Regions from separate parts of the Homo sapiens genome. Here region 2 is linked to region 1. Evidence: fine-mapped expression QTL. Tissue or cell type: cerebellar hemisphere. Region 1 holds a variant in brackets; the other region holds the start of a gene. All regions are shown on one strand. Distances are between the middles of the regions.

What was found. PIP is the estimated chance that this variant, and not a neighbour inherited with it, causes the effect.
Region 2: FAM163B starts here. The variant in region 1 is fine-mapped to the expression of FAM163B in cerebellar hemisphere (GTEx, PIP above 0.99). The same link has a PIP of 0.9 or more in cerebellum.

The regions. Positions count from the first base shown.
Region 1 is chr9:133,650,094-133,658,192 of GRCh38, forward strand. It overlaps DBH (dopamine beta-hydroxylase), which reads left to right. Exons shown (of 12, transcript NM_000787.4): 7 at 1,541-1,684; 8 at 2,153-2,191; 9 at 2,847-2,906; 10 at 6,430-6,557; 11 at 6,977-7,136. It overlaps DBH-AS1 (DBH antisense RNA 1), which reads right to left and starts at 7,315. Exons shown (of 2, transcript NR_102735.1): 1 at 7,034-7,315; 2 at 4,494-6,444. RefSeq lists an enhancer at 4,390-5,189. The variant C/T (reference allele first, on the strand shown) is at 5,027.
Region 2 is chr9:133,606,211-133,614,309 of GRCh38, forward strand. It overlaps FAM163B (family with sequence similarity 163 member B), which reads right to left and starts at 3,179. Exons shown (of 3, transcript NM_001080515.3): 1 at 2,867-3,179.

The DNA of each region.
Region 1 (8,099 bases):
GGGCCAGGGTCGGCCTCTGGGGGCCAAAGGGGCATTGGGACCCTTTGGGCTCCCAGGCCTGGCACACAGTGGCCTCTCAAGCCATTGCAAGGGACACAAAGCTATAGGCGACGGCAAGGTCAGGGCGGCCGCTGCTTGGGAGCGAGAGGGAAGGAGCAAAAGTGAGTCCTAAAAAGCTCGGCCATCTGGGACCTTCAGGGATGGGGCTGTCGGGACCTTGAGCTCTGGGACCTGCTGACTGCATGAACAAACTGGGCAGAGCCTGGCAGCGGGTGGGCAAAAGGACAACTGACTCACAAAGAAAATGCTCGATTTCAGGAAAGACGTGTTCTTTTCTTTCCTTCTTTCCTTCTTTTCTTTCCTTTCTTTTCTTTTTCTTTCTTTTTCTTTTTCTTTCTTTTCTTTCCTTTCTTTCTTTCCTTCCTTCCTTCCTTCTCTTTTCTTTCTTCCTTCCTTTCTTTTTTTTTTTTTTTGATGGAGTTTCGCTCCTGTTGCCCAGGCTGCAGTGCAATGGCACAATCTTGGCTCACTGCAACCTCTGCCTCCCGGGTTCAAGTGATTCTCCTGTCTCAGCCTCCTGAGTAGCTGGGATTACAGGCACGTGCCACCATGCCCGGCCAATTTTTGTATTTTTAGTAGAGGCGGGGTTTTACCATGTTGGCCAGACTATTCTCAAACTCCTTACCTCAAATGATCCATGTGCCTCAGCCTCCCAAAGTGCTGGGATTACAAGCATGAGCCACCATGCCCAGCCATGGAAATGCATTTTCTATCTAAAAAAAGTTAGCATTAGGTTAGAGAAAACTTTCGTTCTCTGGAAGATTCTCTCATGCCCCAGTGATGGCATAAGACCTCTTGAGATGAGGGCTGCCATCTTTTCTGTGAGGCCGGCCTGCAGCCTCAGAGTGTCCAGCTGCAGCACCCCATGGTCACATCCATCTTGGTCCTGGATGACCACCTTCCAGTTGTAGCTACAGCTCCCAGCTGTAGCACGGGGTGATGCTGAGCACAGGGAGAATGCAGCCTTGGCTGCTTTGAAGCTGAAAGGAAGCCACAACGCAGGGCAGCTGAAGGTCCTGCTCGGCCCACCACGTAGGGGACCTGCCAAGTACCACCTTCTGCCACTTGCTTTTCCCTGGACAGCAAGCTCTTCAGCACAGAGGCCACGCGCTGCTCAGCTTGGTGGCTTTGCCACACCCTGTCCACGGGAGGCTCGCCTTAAAGGCCTGTTGACTGAGTGAAGATGAACCTGTCAGGCTTCAGGGGCTCAGGAGAGGATGAAGGACTCGGAAAGAAAGTCGCTCCTGAGTGGGACTAGGGGCTGCTTCTTTGGGAGCTGGGGGCTGTTGCGGCCCCCTCGCTCTTCCCCGTGAGGTTTCTGATGGTGGCTCTAACCTGGCCGGGGAGAAAGACCTAGAAAATGCAAGTGTTCCAGGGAAGCAAACTGCCCAGGGTGGCTGCTCCCTACCGGGTCCTGGCCATGGACGGGAGGGTCCCCTCGGGGGTCAGGCCCTGACACTGCAGCCCCCCGACCCCACAGGCACTGCCTCCCTCCGGGATCCACATCTTCGCCTCTCAGCTCCACACACACCTGACTGGGAGAAAGGTGGTCACAGTGCTGGTCCGGGACGGCCGGGAGTGGGAGATCGTGAACCAGGACAATCACTACAGCCCTCACTTCCAGGTAGGAACCTGCACCCCACCCCTGCCCCGCCCCCACACCCTGCCACCACACGACCTCCTGGGTCTACTGTTTCCTGACACCATAGGGATGGCTCCAGGCTGGCTTCTTTTTCCTGGGCCAGCCCCACCCGCCCCCCACCCATGTGGCCTGTGCTCCCCACTTGGGTGTCTGGTGTCTGATCGTAGGGAGGCCTCTGGCACATGGCAGATGGTGGTGGGATTCGGGAGACCCAGGCGGCCCTCTGGGAACATCAATCTTGGTCTTGGATAACCACCTTCTGGTTTGAATCTAATGCCCTCCCTGGCCAGAAGCCACACTTAGCGGGCTCTGGCTTCCACTGTAGAGGCTGGGGCAAAATGGACACCCCCAGAGGTCAGGGAGGCCTGAGGGAGGACACAGTGGCCGGGGGTCTGGTCTGCAGCTCTCTGAGGTCTCCTCTCCCCCACCCCTCGGCTCTGCCTGCCCCAGGAGATCCGCATGTTGAAGAAGGTCGTGTCGGTCCATCCGGTGAGTGCCCAGCGGGAAGGCTGTCCCACTCACTGCCACCAGCTGGGGTGGCTGAGAGGGCTGGGGGTGCCACCAGAAGGAGAGGGACACAGAAAGTGATAGGGGGAGGGAGAGCCATCCAGGGCAGGGGGAGGGTGCCTGTGGGTGGCTCTGGGCTGGGCTACCTCATGGGGAGACTCACTCAGGAGTTCATGGAGAGACGTTGGAAAGAGTGGAGCAGACAGGACACTCCCAGGGGACGCGTGTCCTCAGTCTGATGGGCCGACCACAAACCCGAGAGTGTTTGGGGGAGATGAGGGCACTAAGGCAGGCAGTGGAGCCCTGATCCCACAGAGGGCCAAGCCCAGGCCTCGGTGGGGACTTGCCCAAGTCCTTTGAGATGTGTCATGGCCCACCAGCTGCACCCCCACTGGCCTGGGCCCTGGCCCTGTTGTGACCCACTGGGTCACAGGAGCTGATGGTTTATAACTTGCTCGGGAACACTCAGCCTGTGACCTTCGCACATGAATCTGCTGGGCTCCTTGTAGTGGACGACAGGGACTGTACCCCAGAGGTGCCGTGGCATGCACAGTGGCGTGGTCCTATGGGGGCGAGGCCTCCAGCACCTGCCAACGCCAGGTGGCAGGTGCTGATGGTCACATTGGCTTTTCCTCAGGGAGATGTGCTCATCACCTCCTGCACGTACAACACAGAAGACCGGGAGCTGGCCACAGTGGTAAGTCACCCCCGCTTCCCCCTGCACCTGCCCAGGGCGAGTGTTCAGCCTGAGCCATCTGAGGAAGGATGACAGGTCTTGACTCCTCACTTAGGGCATGGGCTCGTCCCCTCAATAAGCCAGTCGTTCTCAGCTCCCTGAACCACAGTGGCAGCATCACCAGGGAGCTTGGGATGAATGCAACCTCCTGGGTGCCACCCCAGGCCCACTGAGTCAGAGACACAGGCGGTGGCATCGGGCAATCCATGTTTTAACAAGCTCCCAGCGGATGTTGACCCCTGCTCAAGGTTGAGAAGCACTCACACCAAGAAGCTTCTCAGCACCCGGGGCTGGTGTGGGGAGAAGCTGTAGGACAAGAGGTTGACCTTTGCCCCGTGGAGCTCAAGGTGCACCAGGGAGACAGGCCTGGAGCACCTGCTGCTAACAACAAGCAAAATTACAAAACAAAACTTTAAAAACCAGGTTGAGGAGGCAGAGGTGCGGGGACCTGGGAGGGCCTTGTCAGAAATGTGGCTGTCACATGGAGCCCAGGGGAGAGGGGAGGAGGTGAAGGAAGGCTCTGTGCAGGGGCTGCGTGCGGGAAGGCCCAGAGGACCAAGAACATTCTCAGGATGGAAAGGAGAGGAGGAGAGGGTGGAGACATGGGTGGGGGTCAGGCAGGATGAGCGTCAGCTGAGGATGCATTTTGGCTGGACTGCAGACAGTTCAAGGAGAATCTGCACTGGAGAGATCTATTTTCAAGGCTGGGTATGCAGGCAGCACCAGGACACGGGCAGCCACGTGATGCATCACGCAGCGGGGCTGCTTCCGGGAGCCAAAGGGGATGCTGTTCACAATTACCTGGGTCCCAGGCACAAGCCAGGGCTGTCCTGGCAAATGGGCCACCTTGCCAGTGGATCCGTGCCAGCTGCTTCGGTAACCATGGTGGTCTCCAATAATTATCCTGTGAATTGTGTGGCTCAAGTGGAGCAGACCTGGGTTACAGCTACCCTGACATCCCTCAGCGCCAGGAACTCAGGTCCATGTCACAGCCCTATTCTTTGTGTTTTAATCCAATGTGGATTCACCTGATGTTTACTGAGCCCAGACTGCCAGTGGTTTATTTTATTTTATTTTATATTTTATTTTTTTTTGAGACGGAGTCTCGCTCTGTCACCCAGGCTGTGTGTTCTCAGCTTGCTGCAACCTCCACCTCCCGAGTTCAACCGATTCTCCTGCCTCAGCCTCCTGAATAGCTGGGACTACAGGCACCCACCACCACGCCTGGCTAATTTTTGTATTTTTAGTAGAGATGGATTTTCACCATGTTGGCCAGGCTGGTCTCAAACTCCTCATGTAATCCCTCATGCTGGGATTACAGGCATGAGCCATAGCACCCAGCCAGTGTTTGTATTTTCACAGGTGAGACATAAAGGCTCAGAGAGGGCAGGCACTTGACCAAAGTCACACAGCTGATAGATGGCTGAGCTGGGATTTGACCCAGGGTCTTGTGCCTCACAGCTGTTACCCCACCCTTCCTGTCTCCCTTGGATTTCAGGTGACAAGTGTCCTAGGTTCCTGATCACAAACTCAGGGTGGAGACAGGACAGCTTTGTCAGTCCTTTATTCTCTCTAGAGGAGGTGCTCAGTATATCACAGCAGTGGCTGATGTCGGGTGCTTGCCACAGCTCAGCACTGCTCTAATAACTCATCCTAACCACACCAAGCCTTGCTGAGACCTCTGAGCAATCCCACCAGGAGATACAGTGAGGTCCAGCCACTCAGGCCACACAGCGAACAGGAGGCAGGGCTGGTATGGGTGCAGGTGCCAACCCCGACTGTGCCGCCTCTCGGCTAAGCACCTGTGCAGTGACTGAGTGGGCTCGCAAACAGAGGGCTCTGCAGGTGGAGCACCCCAGGCAAGTCCCCACCATCAGCCCCATTCTGCAGGCGCGGCCCCGGGGCCAGGGATGGGAGGGTCTTGCCGGGCATCCAGCGAGGAGACTGCATATTCCCTGCCCAATCTGGCTTCACGGCGGCGGAACTGACGCCACGTCCCAGGGCGTTCGGGGCTGCCAGGCCTGGTGAGCACCGCGGACATCTCAGATGGCCGTTCTGCAGGTTGAGGCCCTCGGTGCCAG[C/T]GTCCCCGTGGGCAGTTCTGTGGCTTCCCTGGCCCATGTCGTCCTCTTGGCAGTGGCCACATCACAGCACCAGGTGGGATCAAAGGGGAGGGCAGCTCCCCAGGTGGACCTGAGCTTCTCACACTCTGACAAGCCCTCGCCTGCTGATCCAAGACACAGTGGCCTTTGAAATTCGATTTCCTTCCCCAGGTGAAAGAGGAGAACAGATTCTACACAGGGTCGGACTCAGTTCCCTTTTGATGTCTGTGGTGGCAGAGGGTGGGGAGGGACAGGAACTCACACAGGAGGGCAATCGTCCCGATCTGACGGGGGCGGGATGGATGAGAAAAGCTGGGAAAGGAGGAATCCGGCCCAGAGAACAATGCTGGCAAAAACGCGTCCTGGCCAACAGGTGCCAGGTTTCGTCTCTGGGCAGAACTGTCCCATGCTCTTTGTCTGCACGGGAGGAGGGGGCGGCAGCTGGTGTAAGTGCCACGCCAAGCTTTGCCCAGTCCCTTTGTTCTGCCATAGAGTAAAGATTGCCTTTCTTCCCCACCAGCCAGATGAAATCCCCAGGCCCACAGCAGCTTCACAAACAGCGGGGAGCCTGGAGGGGCAAGGGTGGCCAGGGCGTCATGTCCCGGCCCCTGACCTGCTGGGATCTGAGCTGCTGCCGGGGGAGCTTTGCTCTCTCCAGCCCCAGCTCCTCCAAGCTGCTGCTGTTCTTCCTCCTATGGCTGAGGCTCCACGGTCACCAGCTCCAAGAGCAGCAACCCAGCGAGGGGCTTAAAGCTGGCAGTGGGGACTCAGAGGGTGCCTGCCCTGCCCCTCCCATGCGATGGCAGGCCGTAGGGTTGCCGTGAGAGGCTGGAGGTTGTCGCGGCCTCTAGTCACGGTCCTGTCTTATAGAGTCCCTGCTCCCCTCAGAGCCACGTTGGAGAAATGACTGGTGGACGGTGCGGGGCTGCAGTGGAAAGGGCCTCCCTTGCAGTCCTTGGCTCCAGGCTCTCGCTGGAGGTCATGGGGACAGCTTCCAGACAATGGCCGGGACGCTGGGTGCACTCAGGCTGTGCCACCGATGCTGTGGCCACCACGGGGCATCCCCTTGCCTGCTCTGAGACTCAGTTTCTGTACCCATAAAATGGGCACAATAACACCCCATCCGCTTGTCCCGTTTCATTTTTCCTCACAGCATCATCAGTACCTGATACGAATTTCCTGGTTGACTCACTCACTCACTGCCTGTCTCTCCTGCCAATGGTGGCAATTCCTTGAGGGCAGGGACTCGGTTCCCCAGAGCATGCCTGGCACGGTGCAGTGAACAGACGAGTGGACGCAGTGTACACGTGGGTGCGGCGAAAGCTGCTGGATGGCAGCGTCTGCGTGGCATGGCCCGGGGCTGACGGGTCTCCTCCAACTTGCAGGGGGGCTTCGGGATCCTGGAGGAGATGTGTGTCAACTACGTGCACTACTACCCCCAGACGCAGCTGGAGCTCTGCAAGAGCGCTGTGGACGCCGGCTTCCTGCAGAAGTACTTCCACCTCATCAACAGGTGAGGGCTCCCTGCACAAGCTCCCTGCCCCCAGGGAACCCCGACACAGAACCTCGGGCCTGTTAGGCGGCTGGGCAGATTGGAGGAGTCCAGGCTAAGTTCTAGGAGCAGAGACCTGTGGCGGCATCACTCACCCCTCCCCTCACTCGTTTCCTGCTGAGTCTGGATTTGGCTTCAGAGCCTCCTCAACCCAGCCTGCAGCAGCCATTACCCACCCGCCAAGGTGACAGGAGAGGTGAGGCCGTTGCCGGTGAAGGCAGCATCTGGGGTGGCCTGGCGGAGGCAGCGGGGCTGGGGAGGAGGTGGCAGGACGGTTGCCCCAGGGACAGGACTCGAGTTGCAGGGAGGTGTTGCTGGTGCCCACTGGGCTCCCTGCCCGTCAGCTGCTCCCCAGCCTGGCTGTTCCTTGTCCCCACCAGGTTCAACAACGAGGATGTCTGCACCTGCCCTCAGGCGTCCGTGTCTCAGCAGTTCACCTCTGTTCCCTGGAACTCCTTCAACCGCGACGTACTGAAGGCCCTGTACAGCTTCGCGCCCATCTCCATGCACTGCAACAAGTCCTCAGCCGTCCGCTTCCAGGTGCGCTGCCATGGGCCCGGGTGGGGCATGCAGTCAGGCAGGCCTCATGGGGGGCCCCAGTGAGGGGTGATGGGTCTGCACTCCAAACTGCTGGCAAAAGCACTCGCACAAGACAATGAGAGCAAGTGCCAGGTGGTGACACATAGGCCTAGACAGCCAGCCAGCCAGCAGAGAGAGAGGAGAGAGGAGAGAGAGGAGAGAGAGGAGAGAGAGGAGAGAGAGGAGAGAGGGAGAGGGAGAGAGGGAGAGGGAGAGAGGAGAGAGAGAGGAGAGAGAGAGAGAGAGAGAGGGAGAGAGAGAGAACCAATAACGAGGCAAGGAAGGGAGGGCAGGCACCCTCTCTGGTGACACCTCCACACTGTACCGAATGCCAAATGCAGGTGGTGTGAGCAGGGCGCACTAACCTGCCTAAAAATAAAGCACCAGGGGAGGGGAAGGTAAGAAACGAACCAGTCTGAAGCTGCGAGCTGGTTTTTTCCTCCTTATCTGAGACCCACTGGTATTCGAAGGCATCTAATTTATCCTGGGCCCACTGGGCTGTGGTCAGGAGGCCAGGGCCTATGCAGAGTTAGTCGCGTAAGGTGCCGCAGCCTGGAGATCCAGGAAGATCCTTCCCAGAAGCATTTGGGAGCCAGATTAACTGCTAAGTCAAACATCCTCAGCACCAAGGGAAGGAAGGGCTAATACTGGCTTGCTGAGAATAGTGTGGGGTGGACGTCTGATGGGGTTGAAAACTTGGCATTTGGTGTAGCCTTGAGGGGAAGAGATAGCTAAAAAATATCAGAGCCTGCAGCCAGGGGCTCTGGTTGCTACACTAGGGTGAATGATTAAATTGGGTGGGGACAGAGGCGGGGAGAGGCCTGGATGACTCCCAGGTTCCTGACTAGGTGAATGGGAAGCCAGGGGAGGGGGCATTTACTGAGGTGAGGACCCCCAAAAAGCAACTTGGGGGAGCAGAGTGAG
Region 2 (8,099 bases), 44 kb before region 1:
TCTACCTCCACCAGCCCACTTCACCCCAGGGGCAACAGGATTCCTTCCCCTCTCCAGCAACCCCCAGCAAGCGGGGATTGGGCCAAGGCCTGCGGGAGGATTCAGCAACGGAGGGAGGGAGCTGGCAAACACTGAGGCCTCGGAACTCATCAAATCCCCTCTGGAGCAGATCCAGAAAGACTGAGACACTGCAAGAAGTACCAGTGCCAAGTGTGGCAGCAGCTGGCAGAGAAGCCCCCCAGCCCCACCCTGGCCTCTGTAGGGTGGTCCCCAGGACCACATGCTCTTGGCATCCAAAAGCCTTTTGGCCAGGCTCACGGTTGCCCCGGTGTCCCATGTGCCAGCAGGGAAGGCAGGAGCACCCTCATTTTTGCAGATGGGGATGCGGAATGATGCACCCGTGGTCTGGCCTGGAAACCACTCTCTCTGCCACACAAATTGCCATTTTACCAACACACAGATCAGGACTTGCTACTCTGAAGAGGGAAGTGGCGGTAGGGCCAGGAGCGGAGTGGAGGACAGAACAAGGGCTCGGCTGCTGCTCTGCCTCCCCTCCTGCCCCGAGAGTTTAGAGTCAGAGGTAATTGACTGAGATGTAATACATCTCTCCCCTCCCGAGTGCTGTAATTATTCCTCGCTGGAGCCCGCTGCCATGAGGCTGCAGAGGCAGGCCCACGTGGCAGGAGCCAGAGGTCTCACTGCAGGAGTGGGTCTCCATGCTGTGAAGCCTCACCCAGAACCAGCACCAGAAAAGTCAGGAATATAGAGCCAGCCCCTAAATATACAAAACGGGGGTGATCATGTGAGTAGGGAGTAGGGTTGGCACGGACTGGGGGCTTGGACTCAGGTCAGTCCGAAGATTTCAAAACTGCTCTGCACTCCCTCAATACCATGGCAAAAAGGGAGGAACTGCACTCCTCCCAGCTTTCCTACTCCATCCGGGGCTTAGATGAACAGAGCTGTAATGGCTCAGAGGGGGGACATGAAATGATCCACCCCACAATTTTGTACATGGGAGACTGAGGTCTAGAGAGGAAAGTGACTTGCCCAAGGTCACCCAAAAAGGTGGACAGAACTCGAGTCCCGACTTCTCCATCTGTGCCCACCTTTCCCCAGGTGCCCTTGCTCATGTTTGCTGATGGTACTGGCATGACAGACGTGTGTTGGGGACTCCAGCCTCAAGGGTAGGAGGAGCTCTGTGGGGCTCCTTGCCCTACCTGCTGGAGAGGCGAGGGTGGAGAAGCTGCAACACCTCTGTGTGCCAGGATTCTGAGTGGTGTCAGCACGTCCTGAGAGTCCAGCAATGCACCCTGGAGCTCCCACTCCCTCCCCATGCAAGTGGGGCACTGAGGCTGGGAGAGCCTGTGCATCCTTCCCAGACCCCCAGATCCTTCGGGAGCCATTTCCAAGCTTTCCGGCTGAGTCTAGACAAGCCGGCCCCATTGGAAACTCAGCTGATAGGGAAACCAAAACCCAGCTGGATCCAGGATACAAAGACTGCCCTGTGGGTCTTTTCATAGCATCGTGCAGATGCTCAACAAACTGCCAGCAAGTGCAAGACCGAATGAACAAAACCCCACATTTCCTGGGCCCCCGAGCCTTAGGGTGAGATTTTTTCACAAGCTGCCAGCACCTAAGCTGTTTAGGAAGCTTGCAGTCAGTGCACCAAGAGTTAAAACCAGCCCTTGCCCAGCCCAGGAAGTGCTGGTTCTCACCTGCTCAGGTGGGTAGAGCCCTGGTCACCTCCACTTCACTCTCAATTCTATAAGAGGGAGAAGGTGGGAAGATGGGCAAAGGTGCTTTCCCAGCAACCCTGAACTTTTTGGGGGTTGGTAATTACTGCTCTCCCCAGAAGCCCTGAAGAGCGTGAGTTGGCAGGGGCTGAGGGAAATGCAAGGGAGAAGGCTGGCAGGGTGGCCCGCTGGCTCTCCTGAGCTCCTGCTTACTGGGGAAGGTGCTAGGACGAATGCTGGGGCTCAGGCCTCAAGGATACTCCCCTTACCCTGCAGAAGGTTCCATGAACTTGACCCTTGAGTTTCTTGTCTCAGAGCCATCGGGGTTGCTACGGGACACACACTGGCAGGACCACTTGTGCCCAGGCAGTCCGTGGCTGCGGGAGGACAGGACACGAGTGGGGTGAGACAGTGGAGCCCTGAGGACCCATGTTGAATATCTCTTGGGTTTTTGGTGTGTAGAGTCTTTTCTTTTCTGGCTGAGGAAACCTAGTGTCAGTTAGGCAACCCCCCACCTGTCAATGAAGCAGAGATTCCTAACAGACAAAGGTGTGAGGTGGTGGTGACAGAGGCCGGCGTGTTTGAGGCCATCTCCACCACTTCCCCACTCTGTGATCGTGGGCAAGAGACCAAACCTCTCGGAGACTCAGTTTCTGCATCTGTGAAATGGGGCCAATGCCCCTTTCTCGTGGGTGTTGGGTGAATGGGATGGGATGAAAATGCAGCACCGACTCTGGAAGAAGGCAAAGCTCAGCAAATGAAAAAGTCTTAGCTCCTGGCAGGGAGAGAAGGCGGCCAGGTTTCCAGAGGGCTCTTCTGGGAAACTTTCCCTCCCCACTGCCCCCTGCCCCCAGGCCACTGTTCCGAGGGAAATGAAGCCCCCCTTCCTAAAGTGGGTCCCCCACCTCTCCCTTAGGCCCTCGTGCCCACCTGGGTCTCAGTCTCCTCCTCGGGGATGCGCTTTGAGGGTGGAAGCCAGGGGATGGGTGACGCCAGCTGGGTCAGGGGACCTGGTGCGAGGCAGCCGGGGCAGGCTGCAGTGGGCACTCTGGACGAGTGGGCACCTAGCTGGAGCTTTCCAGCCTGCGTCTTCTGCCCCACACCCCGTGACCCGCGGCCCGCTCGGCCCTTACCTTGAAGCATGGGAACCGCGCTGCCCCGGCCGCGAGGACTTGGGCGCACGTGACGGGGCGGGCGGGCGTCCGACCCGGGCAGGGCGCAGCTAGCGGCGGCCGCTCATGCCCAGGCCACGGCGGTGGCGCCTGGTGTGGCTGGGCGGGCGAGGCGGGCGCTGAGAAGCCCGGGAGGCCCCCGGGGAGGCGACTGCGTGCCCAGGCGGGCACCCCTGCCAGCTCCGCGCTGCGGCCGCGACTCCGGACGCCCCGGCTGGCTCCCTGCGAGCTGCACGCGCGGCTCCAGCCTGGTCCCGAGCGCAGGGCGCGCGCTGGCGGGGAGGGCGCGCGCCCGAGCCTGGCGGGGAGCGCGCGTCACCGGCCCGCGCGCGCAGTCGTCGGGGGATGCCGGGAGCGGCCTGGGGAGCTGTCCCTGGTGCTGACGGCTCGTCCGCTCTCGCCCGGGACGCGCGACCTCCTGGAGGCCTGGGGGTGCCCCCACCCTGGCCGGCGCCCTGCGGTGCTCCCTCCGCTCTCCGCCTGTTCTCGGGGCGTTCCGGCTTCCACAACGTTGGGATCTGGAGTCAGGCCGAAGCTGCTGCTTATCCGCAGTAGGGCAAGTCCCTTATCCTGGTTGAGCGGCTGGTTCTTATCTTTAAAATGGGGAGTTAACACCAGCACCTTTAGGGTTGGTCTGAGAATGAAATCCGATGATGTTTCGAGGCCCGGCACACCATAAGTACTTAATAAATGCTCGCCTTTGTTACTATTTATTTCCCTTCTCTGAGTTAGCAACCCCGGAGCAACTGAGAGGAGGAGCAAGGCTTACGCTGCTCCTGGTGAGTGGCTGTTTGGGGCATGGCGGCTGCCTTTGGATCTCTCCCACATCCACGGGGAAGGGGAGCAGATCCCTTCTCCCTGACCCCAAAGCACAGAGCTAAGACCAATGGCTAGACGTTAAAGCAAGGCAGATTTGGGCTGGATACGAGGGAGACCTTTCTGACCCAAGGCTCCTACTCCTGAGAGGAGTGCCCCAGGAGGCATTTCCCTGTTTCTGCAGGTCCTCGAGCTGAGCCTGCGGTCGCAGGGACCCTGAACGGAGAGAAATCTGGTGTTAAGAATGTTAGGAAGGCTTTTGTGTTAGAACATGTACAGCACTCAGAGCTGTGCCTGGTGGGAAAGCACCATATAAATGTGTGCTTTTTTTTTTTTTTTTTTTTTTTTTTTGAGCCATATCACTCTGTCACCCGGGCTGGAGTGCAGTGGCGTGATCTCAGCTCACTGCAACCTCCACTTCCTGGGTTCAAGTGATTCTCCTGCCTCAGCCTCCCGAGTAGCTGGGACTACAGGCATGCGTCACGACACCCAGGTTGTTCTTTTTGTATTTTTAGTAGAGACGGAGTTTTGTCATGTTGGCCAGGCTGGTCTCGAACTCCTGACCTCAAGTGATCTGCCCGCCTCGGCCTCCCAAAGTGTTGGGATTACAGGTGTGAGCTGCCACGCCTGGCCTTAAATGTGTGCTTTCATTATGATCAACCTTTAAGTTCTCTATAAAAAAACTCCATCCTGGTAGTAACCATAACCTTGCTTCATTCTAGACATGAGAATACTGAGGACAAACAGAAGAGTAAAGTGCTTGGAGTCCATTTCCCTTTTACAGATGGGCTGAGCACAGATGGGTGAGCAACTTGCCCATGGACAAGAGAGTGAGTGTTCACACCATACAGACATGCTCCAAATGTCCAGCCTGCTGCCTCCCCTGCTGGGGCCCCTGGCAAGGGCCCCTGCTGAGTTTCTCCAGGCTGATCAGGTCACTTTGACCATAGAGAGTTTTCTTATAGCAAACCAGGCTAGTCCTCCTTCCTCTTAACTAATGGGAAAAGCTGGTCCCTGCCCCCTGTGAGTATCTTGTTCTCTTCCAAGCAGGATAATTAAACATCACCTGCTTCATTTCCCAAGGGACCAGGGGCTGTGTTTGATTCATTAATTAACTGCGAGTAGTACCTGCTCCCACCAGGCACTTGTCTCATGATAAACATCACTCATTATGTGCTTAATGCGTGCTAGACACAAGGCTAAACACAGTGCGAGCATTGCCTCATTTAGTCTTCTCAGCGATCCGATGAGATATGGATACTGTCATTACCCTGACTTTGCAGGTGAAAACTTTAGGCTCAACAGCAGCAGACCTGAGGCGGATCGGCCTGATTCCCAAGCCATTGCTCCTAATCCCCTTCTTCTAGAACTTCTACATCCTTCCCAACCAGCCCCACCTAGAAAGAAGGATGGTAAACACGGATAGAAATTCCTTATAAGGAGAGAGAGAGAAAGGCAGAAAGAGAGAGAGCCAGGAGGAAGAGACAAACCAGCCAGCCAATCGATGTCCTAGGAGTTGACACAGGAATCCTTTAAATCATCACTTTTAGTCAAAAACTCCATTATGACAACTGAGCAACTTGTTTTTTATTTGAGAGTTGCAAGTGTGTGCCAAGAATTTTAAAAGCAACATCACTGCCAAGCCCTGTCTTTACCAACCAGCTCAATGCCCTTCCACTTCTCCCCATGCTGACTTTTTACTCAAACTCTGCAGAATCCTGCAGCTATAGATCTGAGCAGCTGGAAACCTCTGTGGAACCAGCTCAGACTCTGTAGCTCTTGGCCTCTTGACATGCTGGTTTCTTTCCCATGCTGTGGAGAGAGATGTGTTCCTGATGCCCGTGATGACGAAACCTTATTTAAAATGGAGCCCATTTTATTTGAAAGAGGTCTGAATATTACCCACAATATGTACAGTAGATGCCTGCATTGCCCTCGCTTTACAGATGGTAACAAAGGGGTGAAGTGACTTGGCCAAGGTCACACAGCCAGCAAAGAGGTGACTACACTGAATAGATTTCATTTGGATCGCAATGCCAGATGGTCACCACCAAACTCATTATTTATGTGCAAAAGCATGCCCTGATTTTAAGCAAAAACCAATTTCAGAAAATAAAAATGGGTGAGGGGAGAGAAAGACAAGGAAGAGTCTCTGGTCTGACTTTATAAAAACAATTCATCATCAGGATTCCCTAAATAGCAAGTTCTCCTGGTGCGTGCAAAAAAAAGGATCCTAGTTACACGCAGTTCTTTTAGGTTGGCCAAAAACAGGCCCGGGGGTGGGAGGAGTGACATTCTGCCGCCGGACTGGTTCTCCATCCACTACAATAAGCTGTTTAGTCGCGTGGCAACCTCAGCCAACGGCAGCTACTCTGTCCCCACCACCAGCATCATTCCACAACAGAGCTTCGTGGATATAACTCAAATTCAACAGATGGCCAAGTTGGTTGAACACCTCCCAACACATTGGTTCATGGGTGGCAGTTTACAAAGGTTCATTTTCCACTTAGGGCAAATGGGGCTTGCGTAAGATCAGCCTGACACTATACAAGCAGGACCTCTGTGCGCATCCGTTTCTTGGAGTCGAGTTGGATAGCCTCATTGCTCAAAGACTTACAGCCTCATGAAGAAGAGGCATCAGGCTTTCTTTCTCTCTGAGGATCTATATGTGCACAAGAGGTGCTCATTGGCTGGATATAGAGGAAAAAACAAAACCAGCGGTGGCGGGGAAACCCTGACATTCCAATCACACCTGCACCCCCATGCACAGTCCCCTGCACACTCGAATGGAGGGAACGACGTTCTTGGGAACAAAGGATGTGAGCAGCTGCTGTTGATGGCTGAGTCTCATTCTACAGAGGCAGAAAGAACAAAGTGCTCGAGGAATAAAGTTTCTGCCAGGATGTGGAGAGTAATGAGAATGATGGCCAAGAGCTTCTCCTATTCCCTTTCTGGGAACCCTCTGGAAGGGAGGAGCTCGCCATCTCCAGACATGTCTGAGCAGAGGCTGGCTGTCCACTTGCAGCACAGCTGGCACCCGGGGACCCCTCGGTGTTAGAAGTCTGTGAGATTCCAGAAGGGGCAGCTGCTCACTGGTCTGTGTGGGTGCCCCCTGGCCCCCAGCACCGACCTCCATTCAGCTGCTCGATGGATCTCAGGGCACTGAAAGGGGGTCCACGTCCGGTTTTCCAAGCTCCTCCTCATATTGGTGCCAGGCCAAACTATTGAAGTGGTTGCTGTTTCCACATATTTATGGAAATTACCTGGGCCTTGCCGCAGTTACTAGATTAACCTTTGTTTGGTCGTTGAATTGTTTCCTCTTCTTAGCCTGCAGCCATAAGACGTTCTGCAGTTGATTGACTGAGCCCAGCAACAGCCCCTTTGATCCGTTTTCACTGAACCTGTGTCCACTCAACTCCAGATGATCTGTGCAGGTCAAGATCAAGCCCATTTAGAGAAGAGATGAACTTTTTAAAAAGAAACTATTGAGAGATGGGTAACTGCAAGTCACTGTGATTACTCTGTGATGCCGAATAGGCAGAGTGTGCCTCGCATCCTGGGTCTGTTAGATTGGACGTCTTTTAGATGGGACCAGGAGAATGACGAGGTACCAAAGTGTGCAAGAGAAGGTGAGAGGGTCGGGCAGCAGAGTGTGCCAGCGGACAGAGTGGGAGGCGTGCGCGGGCTCAGGTGTGCAGCGTGTGGGGTGTTTCCATTGCCCTGGTTTGAAAAGACAGCCTCATCTGTGTGAAAAGAAATTACCGGTGGTTTTTAATTACTGCAACATTTTAAAACATTGTGACAGCAAGCTTGATGTGTTCGTTCTTTAAGAATCATCGCAGATGATGGATGAGGAGGAGATGGGGCTGAGAGGCGCTCGGGGACCCGTCAAGGGGTCTCTCCCGGCTCCCTCTGTGAATCACGGATCATCTTGACAAATCCTGCTGCAGAGTGAGAAGAAGTGAGACAGGAGTTATGGAGGATTTATTGTTTCAGAGCCTTCCTCCATTGCAGGGATTTTTTACTCCAGAGAAACATTAACAGAGAGTACTCCTAATCTGGGTTTTACTTTCTCAGCCAAAGCACTTCTTCACAGCTTGAGCAAATAAATGCAGGCCATGCCTACATTCGTTCATTCATTCCCTCACATACTGTGGGCGCAGAGACAGAGGAAAGAGTCCTCGTCATCATGAGCTCAGAGGGAGGTGAGAGTTTCAAAGGTTGATGGGACAGGGCCTCCTGAGGCAGGCAGAGGCAGGACAGGGACCACCCGGCTGATAGCTAGCATGTGTCTTGTGCTTATTACTGTTGAACTGTGCTGACAGCCCTGGGAGACAGGCACGATTCATTCATTTTACCGGATTTACAGTAAAGAACC